7 linked regions of the Homo sapiens genome follow. The protein of the gene in region 1 purifies or fractionates together with the protein of each later gene. This does not show direct contact. Each region holds a gene or a part of one and is shown in the gene's direction. Other genes may lie near its edges. The genes, in order: AGFG1, SUCLA2, TBC1D15, GPN1, AZU1, IPO11 and FLVCR1.

Region 1 (3,500 bases):
CCCTTGCTATGGAATAGGGACTATATCTATAAAGCTAGTGTTCAGCTACTGAGGGTTCTTCATTTTTAGCTATATGAGCACAATTTAAGTTACTAAGACTCATTAACTATGAACTTTTGGTTATTTCTTTAATAGTATTGCATAGTGGATACTTTCATCTTGGGAGGTTAACAAGATGGGGCAGAGAGTCAAAATAGAGGGAATAAATAATGGGGAAGTAACGAGCTTCTTGTTTGCTTGAGGAACTCTGTTTCAACCCAAGAGAATCTGTTCAGAGCCTGTTTTGGTCCTGAGGGAACATTTGTTGTGGTTTACAGCAGAGGTCTTTACCTTCATTCAGGAGCACATTAGCTCTGACTTGCATGCTCTATCAAAATTTGTATTCTTACTACTTTCCAAAATAGACTACATTTTTCTTTTTTTTTTGGAGACTGAGTTTTGCTTTTGTCACCTAGGCTGGAGTGCAATGGTGCGATCTCGGCTCACTGCAACCCCCGCCTCCTGGGTTCAAGCAATTCTCATGCCTCAGCCTCCCAAGTAGCTGGGATTACAGGCACCCACCACCACGCCTGGCTAATTTTTTGCATTTTTAGTAGAGACAGGGTTTCGCCATGTTGGCCAGGCTGGTCTTGAACTCCTGACCTCAGGTGATCCACCTGCCTCAGCCTCCCAAAGTGCTGGGATTACAGTTGTGAGCCACTGTGCCCGGCCTAAAATAGACTACTTTTTGCAAGGCAAGATTAGTCAGGGCTATATTCAGCTGTACTAGAAGACATCAAGTATGAAAATAGATTAAAATACACCAGTAAAATTTAAGTTCAGGAAAGAAGAAAATACTAGAAGGTGGGTTGGTAGTAAAAATATGGTAGCATAAATGATTCTTTTAAAATGAAAGGTATAATTATCCTTTTATCATTTTGGTTCTGAATTTCCTAGACATTCTACCCTGTAGGAAAGACTGTTCTCCTTACATAGCCCTAACCTAGTTTTGTTTTCTCAGCCGTGTTACTTTTACCAATTCAGAAAGTGAGTTTGGTTAGGGATTAGTTTATGGTCAGCTCTAGCTATCAACAGAAAAGTGAGTGTGAGTAACAGTTGGTAGAATTAAAATCATAGATCCTTACCCCCACATTTATAACAGTAATGTATTATTCATTCAAACTATAACGCAAATACCTAGAAACCTCAAATAATTACAGTTTATGTTATTTTTTTTCTTTCCTGAGAAACAGGATAATAAGAGTTATACAAATAGAGACTTCAAGTGGTGGGACAGGTGACCATCATTAAGAGGGCCAGGACCTGTATGTTTTTAATCCAGACTGCTGCACACCTGTAACATACAGCTAGCAAGCAGTGAAATTGGTTTCTAACATGGAATAAGCACTATCCAGATGCAGCATCTCTAAAAATACTCACTGTAACTATACTTAAAACAGTGATGATGGTGTTATCCAAAGGGATTTTGAAACTGTTCTTTTGACCAGTTCTCAAAATCACTTTCTGTGTTATACTAGAAGACATCAGGTATGAAAATAGATTAAAATACACCAGTAAAATTTAAGTTCAGGAAAGAAGAAAATCCTAGAAGGTGGGTTGATAGTAAAAATATGGTAGCATATTACTTTGCCAGGTGAGTCTTTTGAACCAATAACTATCATTTGATTTTATCCTTTGATAAGACTTGGCTATACTGAAGAATTTGTATTAGTAGTATGCTAAATTATGGGAAAATATAACTTCTTGTATTCATTCTCATACATCTTTTATCTCTCCCATTTACTTGAAAGCAGTTGTTTGTGATTATTATGTAGTTTAGTGACAGTGAACACTTAGTTAACACGTATACCAGGAATTGTTCTCAGTGCTTTACAAATGTTAACTTGTTTAAACCTAGGCAACTCTGCCTCTCCATTTTATAAATGAAAAAAATGGAAGCACAAAGAGTTGAAGTATTAATAGTTTGCCCAAGGTTTCACAGCCATTTAGTGGTAGAGCTGGGATTTGAACTCTTGTCTCTGGAACAGGTGCTCTTAAGCATGGTTTTCCTTCTTTCCTCACCTACTTCATATGGGGAATAAGAAGGAGGGTAGGACAAAACCCAGAATTACAAAGAGCAAAAGCTCTCACATAATCCCACACCTAGAGGTCAGGATTGCCTATGTTTGGACATTATTATATCCTTGCTACCTCTCCTTTCTTGACTCGCCTCCTCACATAAATCATGTGTTTATATGACTGGAATCAAATCTGAAAGACCTGTGAAGTTTCCTCTTTCCATGTCAAAGCAGAGTAGCTATGAGTATTGTATTATCGTAAATTTTTTTTCCTTGATAGATGTTGGGTTTGTTTCCCAGTTTTTGTGAAATTATAAAGAGAGGACTGTGGTTAACATCCATGTGTACATGCATCTGTATACACTTACCAATTCTTAAGGATGTTTCTGGAAGTGGCACTTCTGGTGCACAAAGCACACCTATTTATATATTTTAGTAGGTAGCAATAAAAAATTGTAAAGTTCACACTTAGCTCATAGGTGAATAAAACCTTAATTTGCATTTTTGTCAGGTTAAAAGTGTTTTCATTTTTGTGTCTCCTGTCTTCTGTGAATTGCTTCTTTTGTTCATTTAAAATGGGATGATCTTATTCTTACAGATGTAATAAGCCTTTATATTTTAGGCTGTTAACTGTAATATTACAAATGTTTTCCTACCTCATCTTTCTTCAAATGTTATTTAGATCTTAAGATAATTTTAAAAATTATAGTATGAACTATTCATGGTGATGACTAATTGTAGGTCCTCTGTTTAAAAAAAGCAGTTATTTCTTATATTGTACTTAATATCTTAGAAAAACCATAAATAAGTAATTGAAACAAGTTTTGTGGTTAGTCTTCTCTTTTCTCTGAGTATTTCAAATATTTAATGGGTGTAGTCTTAAGCTGTCGTTCCTTTTTTAAAAAATATGCAAAGTTATTCTGTGTGAGAGGGTTTTCAGATAAGATTAATGGTGAAACAATCTTGTACAAAGTTAGAATTAAGCTTATCATTTTTTGATATAGAATTACCTACATTTTTTTTTAGTTAACTGTTTTTTACATGTTTTAGGTATGTCCCGCCAGAACAAGCCAAAGTCGTGGCATCAGTTCATGCATCTATTTCAGGGTCCTCTGCCAGTAGCACAAGCAGCACACCTGAGGTCAAACCACTGAAATCTCTTTTAGGGGATTCTGCACCAACACTGCACTTAAATAAGGGCACACCTAGTCAGGTGAGTAGTCTTTGAATCTTTGTAGGGAATTCGACTTAAAGAGGGCTTGAGTATCAAGAATTTGAGAATTGTTTAAGACAGCAGCATAATCTTGTATGCCAGTAGCATTATGTTCCAATGGTTTGTTATACATTAAGAAATTGTTGGTTAAGTGGTTGAAATGTATATATACTTGTTCTTTTTGCTATTGCTAATATGAGTTTCTTTGACTTCTCTGCAACTTTGTAAAG
Region 2 (3,500 bases), on another chromosome or scaffold:
TGGAATTTCTCATTTAAAATTTTTGGACCACAGTTGACTGCAGGTAACTGAAACTGTAGAAAGTGAAATTGGATAAGGGGGGGACTTTGTGTGTGTGTGTGTGTGTGTGTGTGTGTGTGTGTGTGTGTGTCTCCCTTTTCCCACTTTAGATTAATGGTAATCTATACTTTGTTTCTTTTACTTAACAATAATGTGTATCAGAGAACACTTCATAGTAGATACAGAGAGATGAGAATTTTTTGTCTTCCCTTCCATTATGTTTATAGACATTTCATTGAACACTCGAACACTCTTTGGGCTCTATAGCTTAATCAATAGTAGATTCTTGATTTTTTTTTTTTTTTTTTTTTTGAGACTGAGTCTTGCTCTGTCACCTAGGCTGGAGTACAGTGGCGTGATCTCAGCTCACTGTAACCTTTGCCTCCTGGGTTTAAGCAATTCTTGTGTCTCAGCCTTCTGAGTAGCTGAGACTACAGGTGTGTGCCACCACGCCCAGCTAATTTTTTTTTTTTTTTTTTTTTTTTAAGACAGAGTTTTGGTCTTGTTGCCCAGGCTGGAGTGCAGTGGTGTGATCTCGGCTCACTGCAACCTCCATCTCCCAGGTTCAAGCAATCCTCCTGCCTCAGCCTCCCAAGCAGCTGGGATTACAGGCATGTACCACCATGCCTGGCTAATTATGTATTTTTAGTAGAGATGCGGTTTCACCATGTTGGTCAGGCTGGTCTTGAACCCCTGACTTTGTGATCCACCTGCCTCGGCCTCCCAAAGTGCTGGGATTCAGGTGTGAGCCACTGCGCCCAGCCTTGTATTTTTAGTAGAGATAGGGTTTTGCCATGTTGACCAGGCTGGTCTCGAACTCCAGACCTCATATGATCCTCCCACCTCGGCCTTCCAAAGTGCTGGGATTACAAGCATGAGCCCCCAGGCTTGGCCAGACTCTTGAATTTACCGAGTTAATGTGATGTCATTTCACAAAAATAATAAAAGTCTTATGTCCTTCTTTGGGAAAGTACTTACTAGTAAACAAAATTTAACTCTAGCTTGGAGACAGAAGAATTTAAACTTAAACCTGAATTAAAAATAAAGAATTTGAGCAAGGGAATAGTAGGAGAAAGTATTTCAGAAAGCCTATTTTGACTTTGAGATGTGGGATATATTGAAGGGAAAAGGGGAGAGATAGTAGGAGTCCATCTAGTGCAATACTTAGATATGAGAAAAGGTGAAGGTAATAAATAGGTTATAACTTGTCTCTGAAAGTGCACTTTTTTGGAATGAAAACTTAAATTAAGAAAAGCTTGGAGGACATGAAAAGAAGGAGAAGAACCAGTAGGACCTTGATCAAATAGATCATGAGAGGTAAAAGTGAACAGTTGATTTAAATTATGACTACAGTGTTTTTATTGACTGGGAGATTATAGAAGTCATAACAATAATAATATTGAATGAGATGATGATGATATTAGCAGTTACTACTGTTTATTGAGTGTTTACTGTGCATGCAATGCTAAGCTGTTTTCTTCAAGGATTATCTCATTTAATATGAATTTGGTGATAAAATTTCCATTTTTATAGATGAAGAAACAGGCTAGATAAGTTAACTTATTCAAGGTTGTATGTCATAAGCATCAGAGGGGGGATTTGCAGCCAAAGATATCTAACTTCAAAGCCTTTTCTTAACTAATTTACTGAGGAAGAGAGAAGCTGAGTTTGTTTTTTTGGTCTTAGACATGTCTAAATTTGTATGATGTTTTGTATGGTAACTGGTGGATATTTTTAGACAGATTGTAGAGAGAATTGGAACTCAGGTTAGCAATTGTTAACTTACTGACAAAAAGTAAAATACTAACTAGTAGACCCAAATTTCTATCCCAACATTTTAAGTTAAGATTGTATACTTATTTCAAAACAAATTTTTACTTAGATGTGCTTTGAGTTGTGGAGTATCCAACAAAGACACTCACTGTTTCTGTCTTTAAGATAAAATTTAGAATAATATATATATATATACACACACACACACACACACACATACATACACACACATTTTATACACACATATATAATCTTATGTAATACATATGTGTAATCCTAGCAGGTGGTATAACATCTTAATCAGAAAGTATTTAATTGAAGTTTGGACTATGAGGAGTGTCAGACTTGATTATCCTTTGAGAATGTCATTTGCTTATAAGAACGTAATGTGATTTATAGCAATGTCAGAATAGTCCAGATGTTTTAAATGGAAAAAATTGAGTGTACATTAATTTTGCACTGACCTGTAGTTCTGAATTTACCTTTTTGTGAAAATTCTTCGTTCTTTTCTTTTAGGTTGTAAAGCTCTCTGAAATAGTGACCTTAGCGAAGCAAGCACATGTGGATGTGAAATTTCAGTTGCCAATATGATCTGAAAACCCAGTGGATGGCTGAAGGTGTTAAATGTGCTATAATCATTAAGAATACTGTGTTCTGTGTTATTGTTCTTTTTCTTTTTAGTGTGTGGAGATTGTAATTGCCATCTAGGCACACAAACATTTAAAAGGATTTGGACTGCATTTAATTGTACCATTCAGAATGGACTGTTTGTACGAAGCATGTATAATGCAGTTATCTTCTTTCTTTTGTCGCAGCCAGTCTTTTTTGCTTCTCCTACAAAACGTAACTTGCAATTTGCCAGTTTATTATTGTTGGATACAAAGTTCTTCATTGATAAGAGTCCTATAAATAAGATAAATACGAAGATAAAGCTTTATTCTTTAGTGTTAAAATACAGTATATCTAATAACTAGCCTCATTAGTAGAGCAGTATATTAAAACAATGTTTTATGTAAAAAGTGTTTATCTTCAGCACCAAATACATGATAAATGTATCAATCACTATTTATAAACAGAGCTTTCAAACACTCCTCAGAATATTCTTCTAAGTATTTTGATGAAGTAACTTTGTAATTATTTGAACATTGTTTTAATCATTAGGAAACACTGATTAACTGCAAGTCTTCATGATTCTGTCATATTAAGAAACACCTGTAGGTTTGCTTCAAATAAAGGCATATATACCAAGGACTTACAGACAAAATTAAGAATGTCAATTTAAGTTAATAAAAATCTCCCAATATGATTTGGGTTCATGGCTTTTGTTTGCTTGTTTTGAGGTAAACACAGTAGAAGTTGATTTGTTCGTTATTGCAGTATAGAGGTCTAAGCACCAATTCTTAGATCATATACTTGCCATGACAGTGATTTGTTTTTTTTTTTGAGTCAGGGTCTCACTCTGTCACCCAAGCTGGAGTGCAGTGGTATGATCATGCTCACTGCAACCTCTGCCTCCTGGGCTCAAGCAGTCCTCCCACCTGAGCCTCCTAAGTAGCAGGGACTACAGGCACACACCACAAAAAAACATATGTGTTTTTTTTTGTTTTTGATTTTTGTTTTTTTTTTGGTAGGGACAGGGTATCACTATGTTGCTTAGGCTGGTCTCTTACTCCTGAGCTCAAGCAATC
Region 3 (3,500 bases), on another chromosome or scaffold:
ACTTGGAGGCTGCAGTGAGCTATGATGGTGCTACTGCACTCCAGCTTGGGTGACAGACCAAGACCCTGTCTCAAAAAAAAAAAAAAAAAAAGAAAAGAAAAAGAAAATGAGGAGGGATTAGAGTGGGAGAAATGGGTCCATTAATAGCTCTTTTGTTTCAGAGTTGTAAAATCCTATTGTAGTACACTTCATTCACTCTAGGTTTTCCTGTTAGTGTATTAGAATTTCTTTCTATTGAAAATTACTGGCCGGGCACGGTGGCTCATGCTTGTAATCATCACTTTGGGAGGCTGAGGTGGGTGGATTACTTGAGGTCGGGAGTTTGAGACCAGCCTGGCCAGCATGGTGAAACTCTGTCTTTACTAAAAATACAAAAGCCGGGCATGGTGGTACACGCCTGTAGTCCCAGGTACTCAGGAGGCTAAGGCAGGAGAATCGCTTGAAACCAGTGCAGTGAGCTGAGATTGTGCCACTTGTTCAGACTGGGCGAAGGGCATACTGTGTTTCAAAAAATGAAAAAGAAAATTACTTGAAACAATAGGGAAATCAGCTGTTTTTTTTTCTTAATTAGAATTTGTGATGTCATTTTTAGTAACAATTTATTTTGTAGCTTAAAATTGGCCCTAACCAATTCTTTTTAAATATGCTCATAGTCCTATAAAATTTTTGTGCTTTAGAAAGATGAATATTCTTAGTATCTAGATTTTCCTGGAGACTTGTTTTCCTAGACTGGATCTTTTAACATGGTAGTTAACTAGGGTATAATAGGAGTATGTCTTATTTTTAAATTTTTCTGGCATTCTTTAGTTCAACAAACGTTTTAGTACCTCCTATGTGCTGAGTTCTTTGGATACAAGGGTGGTTAAACACAGACTTGTATTATTATTATTATTATTGTTAATTTATTTTTGGGACAGTCTTGCTCTGTCACCCAGGCTGGAGTGCAGTGGTGTGATCATGGTTCATTGCAGCGCTGACTGTGTATCTCCTCCAACTCTTAAATTATTCACGTCTCCTATCTGACTTCGCTTGGCACACCAATATCCTTGAGAAGCAATAATAGTTCTGCCAGTTGCTCTTCCTTGAGAGTTGTACCATTCTCTATATCTCAAAACATTCTTCACTTCAGACTATCTGTGATGTATTGCCCTTACAACCACCTGTATTGTGCATTTTTTTTAGTTCCATAGTCATTACTCATTAACACATCCCAAATAAAACTCAGCTTTCTTCTTTCTGTTCTCCCTCTCAGTAAATAACCTCATCTACACAGTTTTGTCCTTGACTGTTCTCCCCTTCACCTCTCACATCTAATCAGTCATGAAGTCTTGTCATTTTGATCTTCTAAATATCTTTCTAAGCCATCTGCCTTTCCTCATCCCCACTACCATTGCCTTAGTTCAAGCAACCATGAGTCTCTCCCTCTCTGGATTACTGCAGCTGTTCGTTCTTGGCCCTGCAGCCACTTTATTGGCTTAGAAAAGGCAAATTTCTAGTTGCGTTTGTCTGTCTTCAGGATAAATTTCAAACTCCTAAATTCTTTAGCATGGCTTATGCAGCCCTTTATGATCTGATCTGGTCTCTGTTTTTGTTTCTAAACTATTTAGACTCTACTCTCTGGTATTTGGGTTTCAATCATGCAGTGAACTACTGCTCTGTATAAAATATATCCTCTGCTAAGAACATATATCCTCTGCTTCCCTATACCCTCTACTAATTAAAATTGCCATTATTTAGATCTCAGTTTATATGTCGCTCTAAGTAAGTTTTCCTGATTCTCACTCTGCCTGAGCCTCCTAAATCTAGGTAAGATAGCATTTATTAGGGCTTGCTGTGGCAGCCTGTTGGTACAATTACATGTTGTAATTGTCTGTTTTCTTGTCATCCCATTAGATTGTAACTGCTGTGGAGGCAGTGACTGAATCTTACTTATTTACACCTAGTAGCTTGCTCTGTACCTGGCACATGGTAGGCGTTTACTGTATATTTATTGAAGAAGTAACTGAAAATGGTACCTCATTCAGGATTCTCTGCATTCCTCTATTACACTCTACTATATACATTGATTTACTGGCTTACATAATACTGCTAGTTTAGTCAGACACTTTTCCTTGTGTGTGTTTTTGCCACTGACACCTTTTATTTCCAGCATGTGGTTGGTGCTCATAAATGTGCTGAATGCATGAGTAAAGAAACTTCTAAATCAGATTAAGTGGAATGGAGAGTAGTTCAAAGAATTTGGGCAGGCTATTGCTTATGTTCTTTTCTGAAGGATTTAGTAGAAGTTATTTGCAGAGAGAAAGGATAAAAGGGTGTTCCAGGTAGATGGAACAGAATACACCTGAAAAAAGGTACAAAGCTTTTGGGTAACAGAGTTCACAATGGCCCAAGGCAGAAATGTTTTATGTGTTGGGGAGTATCAGGAAGTATAGCCTCACTGTAGAGGTAAAGGGTGAAGTCAGAAGATTTTTAAGCCCCTGTGTGGTATAACCAGATGGACATTTTGTAAAGGTTAGTTTGGGCAGTGGTTATACATTATGCACCTTAGGCAGATTATTGGAAGGTGACTAGATCAGAAGAAGAGAGATCAGAATGTTATTTTAGTGACTTAGGCTAGAAATGATAAGGGGCCAGTGTCAGAGGAGAAGGTTCGAGGGACTTAGGTTATAGGGTCTGGATGGTGAAAGAAGCATTTAGAATAAGTGGGTGGATGAGATATCTTTGACAGAATTGGGAATATAGAAGAAGAGCAGGTTTAGATAGAACACATGAGATTAAGATGCCTTATTGAAATGGAGATACCAAGTAGGTGCTTAGATATTTGGGTGTGGAGCCCATTAGGATGCTCAGTCTCGCATTTCCTGGGGATGCTTTCTGGAACCATATGCTCAAATTATCATCTGTATGCCAAATAGTTTTGAAAGAAACTGAACTTTTGTACCTTTTTTGGTTGTTATATTAGCCTGTAAGTTCACATAATTGCTAAAGTTAAGAATGCATGTTGTGTATGATAGGTGATGGGTTTCCAAGTTTGGAGAATGATTTAGGGCAATAATTTTACCCTGAACTTACTGCTACATTTAAAATATTTGGGTTGAATTTTTCCTTTATCTTCCATTTTTGGAAATAAATAAAAATTATAATAATCATAATATAAGTAAAAATTCAGTATTAAGTGTAGGGACAGTATAAAAAATTACTACTGTATTGTGAAACTTCCTTATTTTTTCCAGCTCTTTGTGTCAGGAAGGATGTTCTTGAGTTGGATTGTGCAAAAGTTCATTCTGTCTAAAAGTTGAATTTATCTGTTTTTCTGCCTCATTTTTGCTTTTTAATTAAAACTTTTGCTAAATTAGAGGTGAGAAAATTTATTCTAAAATGTTTGCTGTGGTCACCAGAACTCTTTTAATAAGGTATATCTGACATAGCTCCTTTGCTAGAGGAGAAAAACAAAATACAGTTTCTGTTGCTTTCAGCAGGCCATCATTGGAAGTTTTATA
Region 4 (3,500 bases), about 200 Mb from region 1:
GCTGGGTCTGTCATCCCTACACTTGGGAGGCCAAGGTGGGAGGATCGTTTGAGCTTGGGAGTTTGAAACCAGGCTGGGGAACATAGCAAGACTCTGTCTCTACAAAAAATGTTTTAAAATTAGCCAGCGTGGTGGCACGCCCTTGTAGTCCCAGCTACTTGGGAGGCTGACGTGGGAGGATTGCTTGAGCTCAGGTGGTTGAGGCTGTAGTGAGCCATGATTGTGCCACTGCACTCCGGCTTGGGGCAACAAGAGCCTGGGGCAACGAGAGAGAGAGAGAAGAATAGAGTCCTCTGGCCTAAATGATGCTGGTAGAGTGAAATTGTAACATGAGGAGATACCATGAATAAGAAGATTTATCCATAATTGTAAAATGCACAGGTGGCCAGGCATGGTGGCTCATGCCTATAATCCCAGCACTTGGGGAGGCTGTGGTGGGAGGATCGCCTGAGCCCAGGAGTTTGAGACCAGCCTGGGCACCATGGTGAAACCCCATCTCTACAAAATATACAAAAAATTAGCCAGGGATGGTGGTGTGTGCCTGTAATCCCCGCTACCTGGGAGGCAGAGGTGGAAGGATTGCTTGAGCCTGGGAGGCCAAGGTTGGAGTGAGCTGTGATGATGTCACTGTACTCCAGGCTGGGCAACAGAGTGAGACCCTGTCTCAAAAAAATAAAATGCACTGGTTTGCCCCAAATGTGGCACCATTAGCAGAGGAAGGGCATGCCTCACTAGATTAGTGCATTAAGACTGAGGAGCAAGGCTGACAGTTATTAAAGCTGAGAGAATTTAATTTTGAGGGTACACAAATGCCATCACCAACATTTGTCTTTTCTGATATGACAAGGGATGTCCCTTTTTGGTGGATGCAAGAAATTGTGATCCAAATAGAAATCTGAAGATTGACAGCATTATTTCATTTTCATATTAATTATTTATTTATTTATTTATTTATATTTTTTCGAGACGGAGTCTTGCTCTGTCACCCAGGCTGGAGTACAGTGGCACAATCTCACCGTACTGCAATTTCCGCCTACTGGGTTCAGGTGATTCTCCTGCCTCAGCTTCCTGAGTAGTCACCACACTTGGCTAATTTTGTATTTTTAGTAGAGTCGGGGTTTCACCTTGTTGGCCAGGCTGGTCTCAAACTCCTGACCTCAAGTGATCTGCCCGCCTTGGCCTCCCAAAGTGCTGGGAATACAGGCATGAGCCACTGTGCCTGGCCCATTTTCATATTAATTGTTTAAAAGAAAATTATTTGATTTGCCTGATAGTGTTAATCATTTCTTTTTAAAAAAATTAATTAATTTATTTTTAGAGGTGGGGTCTCGCCATGCTGCCCAGGCTGGTTTTGAACTCGTGGGCTCAGGCAGTCCTCCCAGCGTGGCCTCCCAAAGTGCTCAGATTACAGGCATGAGTCACACCCCCAGCTGGTAATCATTTCATGATGAAACATACAGTTGATCCTTGAACAATTTGGGGGTTAGAGGCGCCAACCCCTGCAGAGACCAGCCGGGGCACCATGGTGAAACCCCATCTCTACAAAATATAAAACTTTGACTCCCCCCAAACTTAATTACTAAAGGCCTACTGTTGATTGGAAACCTTGCTGGTAACATAAACAGTAGATTAACACACATTACATATATATTATATGTATTATATGCTGTATTCATATAATAAAGCTAGAGAAAATAAGGGGAAGATATATTAACTGTTCATTAAGTGAAGTAGATCGTCATAAAACTCTTCATCCTAATCGTCTTCACTTTGAGTAGTCTAAGAGTAGGGGTTGGGTTTTGCTGTCTCTGGGTGGCAGAGGTGGAAGAAAAGGTGCATATGAGTAAACCTTGCAGTTCAAACCTATGTTGTTTAAGGGTCAACTGTGTATCAAAATATCCCTTTGTACACCTTAAATATATATAATTTTTATTTGTCAACTATACCTCAATAAAGGTAGGGGTAGAAACATTTTTAAGATGTTACTTTACAGATTGAAAAAAATTTTAATATTCTTTTCCCAGCCTTATTGAGGTATAATTGACAAATAAAAATTGTATATATTTACATGTTATTTGTAAAGAATAAAGGAGATAATACTTATGAAAGTGCTTATTAGCACAGTGCCTAGACTATACAGATTGAGCATCCCTTATCCAAAAATTTGAAATCTGAAATGCTCCAAAATGTGAGACATTCTAGACACTGACATGACACTCAGAGGAAATGGTTATTGGAGGATTTTGGATTTTCAGATTTGGGATGCTCAACCAATAAGTATTTACAAATATTCCAAAATCTGAAATAAAAAACACTTCTGGTCCCAAGTATTTTAGATAGGAAATTCTCAACCTGTAATAGGTATTCAGTAAATGTTCATTTCCTTCTCTGAAAAATACCAATTTGGTTAAAAAACAAAACAAAAACAAGTTCAATATTAAGGCATTATTACTTCAAACAAGAGTGAGAGTGTGTGTGTTGCTTCTGGGTGGTAGTTGTTTTCCTGTTGGCAGAGACTATATGATGTTATGTAAAAATGGATGACTACTTTTTAGATTCTGAACTCATTTCTGTTCTCTTACTTAGTCCCGACATGCTGACACTGGATGAGCAAGAGCTTATGTGCTTTTACTAATAACTTCTCAATGTTTGGTTTTCAGCATCTTATACAAAACCAAGCTGCCTTTCATTGTGGTCATGAATAAAGTAAGTGTATTCTTCCTGTTGTGATTCACCATTTTTCATCAGAACCTTGTGGTTAGAAGGTTTAGGTGGGTGAGAAAGATTATTTCAGATGCTGGAGACCAGATTCAGGCTTTACTGAAACAAATTCATAGGCACTTCGAGAAAATGAATCAATCAAATTGAATGAGCAATTATTACCAACTCTTGTCTAAAATTATTTTAGGCTAGGTAGAGTAGCACTTCAACCACAGTATGTAGATTATCCCTCAGAGTCAAGATTGTGTAATTACGAGAGGGACAACTAGTCTACTGGAAGTGGCAATTAAAAAATTCTAAACTTCTCTGTTGGTTGATGGCTAGGATGCAAGAGACCTTTTGACTTCAGAGCCTAGAATGTGCTGGTGTCCATTCTGGTCCTGGTACTTGGCAGTGGATAGTGGAGGGTCAACCAAGAGAATACACATCTTCATTTAATTACACTGACTACACAATGATTGTGGTTCTTTGTGGCTTGTTGCAATGGAGGGGAAATAGAAGCAGAGAAAGAAAATATATGGATGATATGTTCTTTGCTGTCAACACTTAATTAAAAGAATAAATTTTGCGTTTGTTGGCTCTGGTTGCTCATAATTGACTTCTCTCTGGTACAGACTGACATCATTGACCACAGCTTTGCAGTGGAATGGATGCAGGATTTTGAGGCTTTCCAAGATGCCTTGAATCAAGAGACTACATACGTCAGTAACCTGACTCGTTCAATGAGCCTGGTGTTAGATGAGTTTTACAGCTCACTCAGGGTAAATTTTCTCTCCTGC
Region 5 (4,096 bases), on another chromosome or scaffold:
GTTCTGGACATTTCGTCTATTTATTTTTATATAGTTTTTAATTTGTTTTTATTTATTTTTTTTGAGACGGAGTCTCTCTGTGTCACCCAGGCTGGAGTGCAGTGGCGCAATCTCGGCTCACTGCAACCTCCACCTCCCAGGTTCAAGCGATTATCCTGTCTCAGCTTCCCAAGTAGCTGGGACTATAGGCGCCCGCCACCACGCCCAGCTAATTTCTTTTTTTTTTTTGAAATGGAGTTTTGCTCTTGTCGCCCAGGCTGGAGTGCAATGGTGCGATCTCGGCTCGCTGCAACCTCCGCCTCCCAGGTTCAAGTGATTCTCCTGCCTCAGCCTCCTGAGTAGCTGGGATTACAGGCATGTGCCACCACGCCCAGTTAATTTTGTATTTTTAGTAGAGATGGGGTTTCTCCATGTTGGTCAGGCTGGTCTTGAACGCCCAACCTCAGGTGATCTGCCTGCCTCGGCCTCCCAGAGTGCTAGGATTACAGGTGTGAGCCACCGCACCCAGCTTGTCAATTATATCTCAATAAAGCTGTTGAAAAAGTTTAAAAAAATCACCCAATCGGGCACAGTGTTTCACACCTGTAATCCCAGCATTTTGGGAGGCCGAGGTGGGTGGATCACCTGAGGTCGGGAGTTTGAGACCAGCCTGGCCAATATAGTGAAACCCCATCTCTACTAAAAATACAAAAAATTAGCCAGGCGTGGTGGTGGACAACTGTAATCCTAGCTACTCAGGAGGCTGAGACAGGAGAATCACTTGAGCCTGGGAGGCGGAGGTTGCAGTGAGTCGAGATCACACCATTGCACTCCAGCCTGGGCAACAAGAGCGAAACTCCGTCTCAAAATAATAATAATAATAATAATAATAATAATCACCCATACAGACGCGCAGGACTCAACGCAGGACTGCCAGCTCCACTGCCCTGAGCCCCCCGGTGCCAGGCCCAGCGGGCAGTGCTGGAGCCCCAGTGGCTTGGGATGGGGAGACTGGGACTCTGAGCTGGCAATGTTCCTGGGTGCTGGCTGCATGCCCGCCATGTGCTGGGCTCCGGGATCCACTGGTTCCTGACACCCTCACCTGCCCCTGGGGGTGTGGCCATCTTCTAGAGAGGGAAACTGAGGATCAGTGCAGAATGTAGGGGGAGCCCAGGCTGGCCCAGGGAGCAGTTGGCGGTGGAGGCCTTGGGCAATTTCCCGTGTTCCCACTGAGTGGGGCTGTCCCTGGGCCTGGGCGGGGACGCCACCAACTGCCAAGGCCTGTGTATAAGGGCAGCCGCCGCCTTAGCCACAGACCTGCCCCGCCATGACCCGGCTGACAGTCCTGGCCCTGCTGGCTGGTCTGCTGGCGTCCTCGAGGGCCGGTGAGTGCCTCTCTGTGCCGGTGGTCCCCCATCTGTGCTAGGGCCCGGCTGCCAGGGCAGAACTCAGACTTAAAGCACAGAGAAGGCAAGCGGCTTGGCCTGGGTCACACAGCCAGCCCGGCCTGGACGATCCCGCGAAAGGCGTGAGGGCGGACGGTGTGCGGGACTCAGGGGCCCCCTGTCCTCTTAGGGAGTGGGACGATGGGGGAGGGTGGGTCCCCCCGCAGCCCCACTGGGTGGATAGAGCTGAGGCTGCAGCTTCACACGCCCTCCCGGCCACTGTGTGGATTCTTGGGGATCTCAGAGCTGTCTCCCCCCGACCCAGGCTCCAGCCCCCTTTTGGACATCGTTGGCGGCCGGAAGGCGAGGCCCCGCCAGTTCCCGTTCCTGGCCTCCATTCAGAATCAAGGCAGGCACTTCTGCGGGGGTGCCCTGATCCATGCCCGCTTCGTGATGACCGCGGCCAGCTGCTTCCAAAGCCAGTGAGGGGTCCTGGGGAGGGGGCCTAGGGGGCATTGGGGCTCAGAGAAGGGGCTTGGGGGGCTTAGGCATTCAGTGGGGGTGCTTGGTAGGTGAGGAGGGGAGGGGATTGCAAAAGGAGGGGCTCAGGGAAAGGAGGGGGCTTGGAGAGGGAAATGGGGACTGAGTTGAGGAGGGACCCAAGGATATTGGGGGGCTCAGATGGAGGAGGCCCAGAGAAGGGAAGGGGGTCAGATGGAGGAGGCCCAGAGAAAGGAAGAGGCTCAGATGGAGGAGGTGCAGTGAAGGAAAGGGGGTCAGATGGGGGAGGCCCAGAGAAGGGAAGGGGCTCAGATGGAGGAGGGGGCCCAGAGAAAGGAAGGGGCTCAGATGGAGGAGGTGCAGAGAAGGGAAGGGGGTCAGATGGGGGAGGCCCAGAGAAGGGAAGGGGCTCAGATGGAGGAGGTGCAGAGAAGGGAAGGGGCTCAGATGGAGGAGGTGCAGAGAAGAGAAGGGCCTCAGATGGAGGAGGTGCAGAGAAGGGAAGGGCCTCAGATGGAGGAGGTGCGGAGAAGGGAAGGGGGTCAGATGGAGGAGGTGCAGAGAAGGGAAGGGGGTCAGATGGGGGAGGCCCAGGGAAGGGAAGGGGCTCAGATGGAGGAGGGGCAGAGAAGGGAAGGGGGTCAGATGGGGGAGGCCCAGGGAAGGGAAGGGGCTCAGATGGGGGAGGCGCAGAGAAGGGAAGGGGGTCAGATGGAGGAGGTGCAGAGAAGGGAAGGGGGTCAGATGGGGGAGGCCCAGATAAGGGAATGGGGTCAGATGGGGGAGGTGCAGAGAAGGGAAGGGGGTCAGATGGGGGAGGCCCAGATAAGGGAAGGGGCTCAGATGGAGGAGGTGCAGAGAAGGGGAGGGGGTCAGATGGAGGAGGCTCAGAGAAGGGAAGGGACTCAGATGGAGGAGGGGGCGCAGAGAAGAGAAGGGGCTCAGATGGAGGAGGAGGCGCAGAGAAGGGAAGGGGCTCAAGATGGGAAGGGGGCCCTGGAAAGTCTCGGCTCTGCTTCTGTAAAAGCGGGGGAGTTTTCAGGGTGAAGGATTGCAGTCTGCAGGCTGGGATCCCCCCTAATTTGCAAGCCGGCTTGCTCTGTGCCCAGGCCCCAGCCTGGTGTCCTCCCTCTGCCCTTTCCTCCGCTACTCTCAGGAACCCCGGGGTTAGCACCGTGGTGCTGGGTGCCTATGACCTGAGGCGGCGGGAGAGGCAGTCCCGCCAGACGTTTTCCATCAGCAGCATGAGCGAGAATGGCTACGACCCCCAGCAGAACCTGAACGACCTGATGCTGCTTCAGGTGAGAGGATGGTGCCACCTGTGATCCCAGCACCTCGGGAGGCCGACGTTAGCCAGGGAAACAAGTCCAAACTTGGTCTCTACAAAAAAATACAAAAATTAGCCGGGAGTGGTGGCGCGCACCTGTGGCCCCTGTGCTTCAGGAGGCCGAGGCGGAAGGACGGCTTGAGGTCAGGAGTTCGAGACCAGCCTGGGCAACATGGCCAAACTCAGTCTCTACAAAAATATATATGTGTGTGTGTGTGTGTGTGTGTGTGTGTGTGTGTGTGTATCTTGCCGGGTGAGGTGGCTCATGCCTGTAATCCCAGCATTTTGGGAGGCCGAGGTGGGCGGATCACGAGGTCAGGAGATTGAGACCAGCCTGGCCAACATGGTGAAACCCCATCTCTACTAAAAATACAAAAATTAGCCAGGCATGGCAGCGGGCGCCTCTAGTCCCAGCTACTCAGGAGGCTGAGGCAGGAGAATCGCTTGAACCCGGGAGGCGGAGCTTGCAGTGAGCCGAGATCGCGCCCCTGCACTCCAGCCTGGGTAACAGAGCCAGACCCTATCTCAAAAAAAACTTCCAAAAACAATACAGCAACACATACAGATGTACCACGGTTCGCGTATGGAGCCTCCTGTTGGTGGAGACTGACGTCGTTTTCAAATGCTTTTGCTATGACAGAATCATGTGAATGTTTTTCATGTTTGGTTTTTTTCTTTGAGAAAATGATAAAATTATCTCAAAAATATCATTAAAAAATTTAAAAAAGTAGAGACGGGGGTTTCACCTTGTTGGCCAGTTTGGTCTCGAACTCCTGGCCTCAAGTGATCCACCCACCTTGGCCTCGCAACGTGCTGGGAATACAGGCGTGAGCCACCGCACCCGGCCCCTGCCGGGAATTAAACGCAAACCACTTACAGACTACAGTTAATGTCGCTGACACTT
Region 6 (3,500 bases), on another chromosome or scaffold:
GAATCAGTGAGTGAGTGGTGAGTGAAAGTGAAGGCCTAGGGCATTATTGTACACTTAGGCTAAAATAAATTTATTAAGAAATTTTTTTCTTCAATAATCTTAGCTTATTGTAACTTTTAGTTTATAAACTTTTTGTCTCTGTTGCAGTAACACTTAGCTTAAAACACAAATACATTGTGTAGTTCTACGTTGTTTAAAACAGACGCAAACACACACATTAACTCAGGTACACACAAGGTCAGGATCATCAATATCTCTGTCTTCCACCTCCACATCTTGTCTCACTGGAAGGTCTTCGGGGGCAATAACATTCATGGAGCTGTCATCTTCTATGATAGCAATGACTTCTTCTGAATTATCTCCTGAAGGACCTGTCTGAGGCTGTTTTACAGTTAACTTTTTTTTTTAATAGGAGTAGTACATTGTAAAATTATGATAAGAAGTATAGTAGTGGGGCTTGGTGGCTCACTTCTGTAATCCCAGGGTTTAGGGAAGCTGAGGTGGGAGGATTGCTTGAGGTCTGGGGTTTGAAATCAGCCAGGGCAACATAGCCAGACCCCATCTCTACAAAAAGTAAAAAAATTAGCATGGCATGATGGCTCATCCCTGTAGTCCCAAGTCTCAACTATTCAGGAGGCTGAGGTGGAATGACTGCTTGAGCCCAAGAGTTCAACGTTGTAGTGAATTATGATGCCGGCATTGCTCTCTACCTCAGGTGACAGAGATCGTAACTCTTAAAAAAAGTAGGCTGGGCGTGGTGGCTCACGCCTGTAATCTTAGCACTTCGGGAGGCCAAGGCGGGTGGATCACGGGGTCAGGAGATTGAGACCAGCCTGGCCAACATGGTGATACCCTGTTTCTACTAAAAAAATACAAAAATTAGCCAGGCGTGGTGGCACACACCTGTAATCCCAGCTACTTGGGAGGCTGAGGCAGGAGAATTGCTTGAACCCGGGCGATGGAGGTTTCAGTGAGCCAAGATCGTACCACTGCACTCCAGCCTGGGCAACAAGAGTGAAGCTCCGTCTCAAAAAAAAAAAAAAAAAAAGTATAATGTAGTAAATGCATAAACCAGTAACATAGTTGCTTATTATCACTTTCAAGTGTTATGTACTGTACCTAATTGTATGTGCTCTGCTTTTATACAAATGGCAGTGCAGTAGGTTAGTTTACACCAGCATCACCACTAACGTGTGAGTAATGTGATTTACTACGACTTAGGATGGCTATGATGTCACTATGTGATAGGAATTTTAAAGCTCCATTAAAATCTTACGGGATCACTGTCGTATATATGTGGTCCATATCTGACTGAAACTTTTTTTTTTTTTTTTTGAGACAGGGTCTCACTCTGTCACCCAGGCTGGAGTGCAGTGGCACGATCGTGGCTCACTGCAGCCTTGACCTCCTGGGCTCAGGTGATTCTCCCATCTCAGCCTCCTGAGTAGCTGGGACTACAGGTGTGCCCCACCATGCCCAGCTAACTTTTTGTTTTTTTAGTAGTGATGGGGTTTCTCCATGTTGCCCAGGCTGGTCTTGAACTCCTGCACTCTAAGTGATCCACCCGCCTCAGCCTTCCAAAGTGTTGGATTACAGGCGTGAGCCGCCATTTTTATGTGGTGTGTGACCCTCTGTGTGTCCTGGTCATAGAATACACAAAATATATACTCAATTTCATTAGAGACAGCTAGATAGCTCTCCAAAGTTGTATTAATAGATATTCCCAGTAGCAGTGTTTAAGAGTTTCTGTTTCCATGCATTCTTGCCAGCATTGAATATTTTTGGACTTTGTAATTTTTGCTAGTCTGATCATAAAGTAGTTTTTCACTGTTTGGATTTTAAATCCCTGATAACCAGTGAGATAGCATCTCTTCTGATATTAATTAAACATTTAGCTCTTCTTTTCTATATATTTTCTGCTTACACCCTTTGTTCACTTTTCTTATATATTTGTCTTGTTGATTCACAAGGGTTCCTTGTATATTCTGTATAATACACCTTTGTTTTAGTTATGTATTAATAACATTTCTTCTCTTAATCTTCACCTTGTTAACCTTGTGTAGGGTATCTTCAATGACTCCATCAATTTCAGTCTTCAGTTCTGATGTAGTATAATTCATTAGGCAGATAGGCTGTGAACTTGATGTATTTTTGTTCTTTCTCAAGTCTAAAGCTAAAAATTCCCAGTTAATTTCACTTGAGATATTAATGGACAGCACTGAACAAAAGTAAAAGTGTTTAATCTTTCGGGAGTACTGGGTGGGGACAGGAGACTTACATTTAAAGTTCTAGAAATGTCACTAATGAGCCTGTGACCTTAGAGAAGTCAGTTTATCTCCTTATCTTTTGGCCACAGTGTCTTGGTCAGTAAAACAAAATACTTAAACTGTGTAGAGAACTGATATGGGTGGCTCCAAGGTGATAGGAAAATTATATTTATTTACTTGTTAACTTATATGGACTCACAACTGAGAGAAAAATTATTTTAATGATAAAATGTAGAATAGTGATTAACTGTGGGATTATTACTTGGCATACAGCACATGCATGTTTGAACAAATGGGTTTTTATAAATACAATGACAGGCTGAGCTCTTTATAGCAAGAATGAGATTCTTATAAGATACAGCTTTATAGACAGTGATGTCTTCAACCAGTAAATGGAAACTACCAATCGAAGATGTCTATATTTGGAGAGAGGACTGATGATCTCTTACACTCAGCAAAAAGTTTTGCCTAACTGCTAGTTATAAATTATAGTCTGTTAAATTTAATCTAGGCTGTGTTGTTATCTCTATTCAGTGCCTTAATCAAAATCAGTTTTATAGCTTTTCCTTCCTATTTTTTTTCATATCCAAGAAGGAACTTTATTTATTTATTTTTTGAGATGGAATCTTGCTTGTTGCCCAGGCTGGAGTGCAGTGACACCATCTTGGCTCACTGCAACCTCCACCTCCTGGGTTCAAGCAGTTCTCCTGCCTCAGCCTCCCTAGTAGCTGGGATTATAGGTGCCCACCACCATGCTCAGCTAATTTTTGTGTTTTTAGTAGAAATGGGGTTTCACCATGTTGGCCAGGCTGGTCTCAAACTCCTGACCTCAGGTGATCTGCCTGCCTCGGCCTCCAAAAGTGCTGGGATTACAGGTGTGAGCCACTGCCCAGCCAGAGAAGGACCTTTAAAAGCAATAAGCATAACTGCTGTTCCTTAGTGGGTTTTGTACAGACATGTATTTTTGTTTTTCAGCTAAGGAGACACCAGAGGGTGATGGTTGACAGTAGTTGGTACCTCACAGCTGGGCACTGATCAGGTAGGGGGTGTCAATATTGTTTAGGATAATGTATAACTTTTCTTATTAGGGGGAGATTAGTCACGGGGAACTCTTGTATATACCAAACAGGCAAGAGACTTATTGCAGTTTATCAGTGCCATTTTACTAAAAACTCCCGGTGAGACAGAAATACTCAAGTTTTTCGGACAGGTCTTCCTCTCACAGGTCTGCCT
Region 7 (3,500 bases), on another chromosome or scaffold:
TTAACATAATAGAATACTGTACAACAGAAAACTAATGAACTACAACAAAAAATATCAACATGGATACATCTCAAAACCATCTCAATATAGTGTAACAAGAGCAAGTTGCAGATGGATACAAATAATATTTATATACTTACAGAATACTTCTAATTGTTTATGAATATGCATATATGGTAATATATAAAATGATAAGCACCAAGCTCAAGCTAGGGCTTGACTTTGGTAAAGAATAGGATTGGGAAAAGTCTGAAAAATGAATCTGAAGCAAAGATGGAAAAATGTTAATGTTTGCCAAATCCGGGTGATATATGAGGATATTTGTTGTATTCTCTATGCTATTTTATATTCTTAAAATATTTAATAATAGATAAATAATAAACTTAAGTTTTAGCTTAATTTAGGTTAAGAGTCTTACCTAAATTCATACAATACATGCTAGGAGACATCAGGATTCAAACCTATCCTGTGCTTCTCATAGCCAGTTGTTTTTATTGTTCACTTCTAAAGTATCCTTTGGGAGGCGAGGCAGTAGAATTGCTTGAACCCAGGAGACGGAGGTTGTAGTGAGCTGAGATTGCACCACTACTCTCCAGCCTGGGCAACAGAGCAAGGCTCCATCTCAAAAAAAAAAGTATTAACTGATTTTGTCTTATGAATTTTCAGTAAGTCTTTGATACAAAAAGGTAAGATCTCTGAAGCACAGTTTCTGTTAGGCTTTGCACATTTGTTGGCTGTAGTAGTACATTGTAGGAATTCAGTAAACAATCCATTGCTTGACTGGTTGCCATATATGTGTTGCATGTGGGGGTATGATTTATGGTCAGTATATCTCAATCTAAATAATAATAGTATTAGGACAGAGTTCTGCTATTACATCTTTAGTACAGTTAGGTGTTAAATTCATTAGTCCAGGTTCTGAAAGGGAATGACAATGGTTTTTAATTTCCTTTATCAACTGTGTTAAGAAATGTATTTCCACAATTGTCACATAATATTCCATGTCACTTCATGAACTGGTAAATGACACACTTTTAGTATTCTCTTTATTATTGTAGGTATCATGACTTAATATCATCTTTATTTATTATTGTAGGTATCATGACTGGTGCCTTTTATTCAGTCTCAACGTTATTAAATCAAATGATATTGACATATTATGAGGTAAGCTTCTGCTTATATCAGATTGCATGCCTGGCCAAAAATTTTTCTTTAGCAATATAATTGTCGTTAGCAGGGTCATGAGATTAAGGGTTATGACATTGTTGCTATCAAATATTTACATTTGTTTTAATTGAGAATATATTTGTTAAAAAATGAAATTTCCACAACTTTATATATCTAATTGGCTTTTATTATCAATTCGTTTATTGGACAGCATCCCATCTAAAGATTTAGAAAGGTACTGATGAGCTGAGCAGAGGAGATGGGCTTTATAGGCAGAAAAAGGCTGAAGAAAGCAGAAACAAGGAACAAAGAGCAGATTGGTTGCTACAAAGTTACTTTCCTTATAGGAGTAAAACAAAGGGGACTGGGCCCCATCTGATAGGTTGCTATGAATCTCCTTTTTTTTTTTTTTTTGGAAAAGTGGCCCATTTTAAAGTTCAGTTTGATTATGTGACACCTAGCACTAGTGACACCATTCTATGTGGTCTGGTCTGTTGGGCCTACTGTGGGAGCTCACTCCAAAACAATGGCCTCCCATCATTTTAATTTAACATATTTAATCCAGTTTATAAAGCACATAGTATGGCCAGGCATAGTGGCTCACGCCTGTAATCCCAGCACTTTGGAAGGCCGAGGCGGGTGGATCACCTGAGGTCGAGACCAGCCTGACCGACATGGAGAAACCCTGTCTCTACCAAAAATACAAAATTAGCTGGGCATGGTGGCGCATGCCTGTAATTCCAGCTATTCGGGAGGCTGAGGCAGGAGAAACACTTGAGCCTGGGAGGTGGAGGTGGCGGTGAGCCGAGATCGTGCCATTGTATTCCATCCTGGGCAATAAGAGTGAATCCCCATTTAAAAAAAAAACAGGCTGGGCGCCGTGGCTCACACCTGTAATCCCAGCCAAGATAGCGCCACTGTACTCCAGCCTAGTGACAGAGTGAGACTCCATCTCAAAAAAACGAAACAAAACAAAATACACACACACACAATATGGAAAGCAGAAGTTACTATCCCTGTGACAATACCTAAGTTTATTTTTAGGAAATAATATGATTGGTTATATGGAAAAAGACAAAACATTTTAAGGGAACTCAGCATAAATATAGATAAATAAATATCAAGTTTTGATTGACGTATCTGCTTTTGAAAGGATAAAGCAGTTGTACTATGTAAAAGCTATCGATTAACCTCCTTTTCAGATATCTATACAGTGTCATACCTTGCTTAGTGACAGGAATACCTTCTGAGAAATTCGCTAGGCAATTTCATTGTTGTGTGAATATCATAGAGTGTACTTACGCAAACCTGATGGTAGAGCCTGCTACATACCTAGGCTACGTGGTATAGCCTATTGCTCCTAGGCTACAAACCTGTATAACATGTTATGCTACTGAATGTTGTAGGCAGTTGTAATACAATGGTAAGTATTGTGTATCTAAATATATCTAAACAGAGAAGGTAGAATAAAAATACAGTATTATAATCTTACAGGATCATACTGTATATATGATTCAGAGTTGACCTAAATGTAATTATGGAGCACATGACTATCTATACTTAAGAATCCTAACAAAAATCATTGTACTTCTAACCATAGAGGATTAAGGAAAATTTACCTTTTTTATTTCTTCTATTATTTTAGGCTTTTTTTCTGGTTTTAAAATATAATGCTTTTATATATTCTTTACCTGCCCTCCCCTCCCACACTGACACATGTACTAAATCTTCCTACTGTGTGCTTAGTTTTATCTAATTATTTTCATTGACTATGAAAAGGTGTGGGAATGTGAAGAGTCTGAATTAGTTAATCCATTTATTTGATCAACTTCTTACGCAAATTTTTTTCAGGGAGAAGAAGTCAATGCTGGAAGGATTGGGCTAACGCTAGTAGTAGCTGGAATGGTGGGCTCTATTCTTTGTGGCTTATGGCTGGATTATACTAAAACATACAAGTAAGTGAAAGTAAATACATGTATGGTGTATAACCAAAGGTATTTTGATTTTAAAGGACAATTTGCTTTTTATTTCAAGAAATTTAAAACATGTTATTACTTAAAGATACGGATTCTAAACACTAGTAGGTTCTCTTCACTTAACAAGTGTTTCTTTTTTTTTTTTTTTTTTGAGACGGAGTCTCGTTCTGTCGCCCAGGCTAGAGTGCAGTGGCGCAATCTCGGCTCACTGCAACCTCTGTCTCCCGGCTTCACGCCATTTTCCTGCCTCAGCCTCCCGAGTAGCTGGGACTACAGGCACCCGCCACCATGTCCGGCTAATTTTTTTATATTTTTAGTAGAGACGGGGTTTCACCTTGTTAGCCAGGATGGTCTCGA

The links.
Region 2: the proteins of AGFG1 (region 1) and SUCLA2 fractionate together in Homo sapiens (co-fractionation; one large-scale study listed by BioGRID). This does not show direct contact.
Region 3: the proteins of AGFG1 (region 1) and TBC1D15 purify together in Homo sapiens (co-immunoprecipitation; one large-scale study listed by IntAct). This does not show direct contact.
Region 4: the proteins of AGFG1 (region 1) and GPN1 fractionate together in Homo sapiens (co-fractionation; one large-scale study listed by BioGRID). This does not show direct contact.
Region 5: the proteins of AGFG1 (region 1) and AZU1 purify together in Homo sapiens (co-immunoprecipitation; one large-scale study listed by IntAct). This does not show direct contact.
Region 6: the proteins of AGFG1 (region 1) and IPO11 fractionate together in Homo sapiens (co-fractionation; one large-scale study listed by BioGRID). This does not show direct contact.
Region 7: the proteins of AGFG1 (region 1) and FLVCR1 fractionate together in Homo sapiens (co-fractionation; one large-scale study listed by BioGRID). This does not show direct contact.

Annotation. Positions count from the first base shown.
Region 1 is NC_000002.12:227,520,656-227,524,155, forward strand, and holds part of AGFG1 (arf-GAP domain and FG repeat-containing protein 1), read left to right. Parts: intron 1-3,107; coding exon 3,108-3,270; intron 3,271-3,500. UniProt on the Homo sapiens protein: Required for vesicle docking or fusion during acrosome biogenesis. May play a role in RNA trafficking or localization.
Region 2 is NC_000013.11:47,942,274-47,945,773, reverse strand, and holds the end of SUCLA2 (succinate--CoA ligase [ADP-forming] subunit beta, mitochondrial precursor), read left to right. Parts: intron 1-2,328; coding exon 2,329-2,403; 3' UTR 2,404-3,118; downstream 3,119-3,500. UniProt on the Homo sapiens protein: ATP-specific succinyl-CoA synthetase functions in the citric acid cycle (TCA), coupling the hydrolysis of succinyl-CoA to the synthesis of ATP and thus represents the only step of substrate-level phosphorylation in the TCA.
Region 3 is NC_000012.12:71,842,759-71,846,258, forward strand, and holds part of TBC1D15 (TBC1 domain family member 15), read left to right. Parts: intron 1-3,500. UniProt on the Homo sapiens protein: Acts as a GTPase activating protein for RAB7A. Does not act on RAB4, RAB5 or RAB6.
Region 4 is NC_000002.12:27,635,550-27,639,049, forward strand, and holds part of GPN1 (GPN-loop GTPase 1), read left to right. Parts: intron 1-2,660; coding exon 2,661-2,706; intron 2,707-3,335; coding exon 3,336-3,482; intron 3,483-3,500. UniProt on the Homo sapiens protein: Small GTPase required for proper nuclear import of RNA polymerase II (RNAPII). May act at an RNAP assembly step prior to nuclear import.
Region 5 is NC_000019.10:826,541-830,636, forward strand, and holds the start of AZU1 (azurocidin preproprotein), read left to right. Parts: upstream 1-1,296; 5' UTR 1,297-1,306; coding exon 1,307-1,364; intron 1,365-1,689; coding exon 1,690-1,846; intron 1,847-3,021; coding exon 3,022-3,166; intron 3,167-4,096. UniProt on the Homo sapiens protein: This is a neutrophil granule-derived antibacterial and monocyte- and fibroblast-specific chemotactic glycoprotein. Binds heparin.
Region 6 is NC_000005.10:62,419,263-62,422,762, forward strand, and holds part of IPO11 (importin-11), read left to right. Parts: intron 1-3,500. UniProt on the Homo sapiens protein: Functions in nuclear protein import as nuclear transport receptor. Serves as receptor for nuclear localization signals (NLS) in cargo substrates.
Region 7 is NC_000001.11:212,882,275-212,885,774, forward strand, and holds part of FLVCR1 (choline/ethanolamine transporter FLVCR1), read left to right. Parts: intron 1-1,096; coding exon 1,097-1,164; intron 1,165-3,018; coding exon 3,019-3,122; intron 3,123-3,500.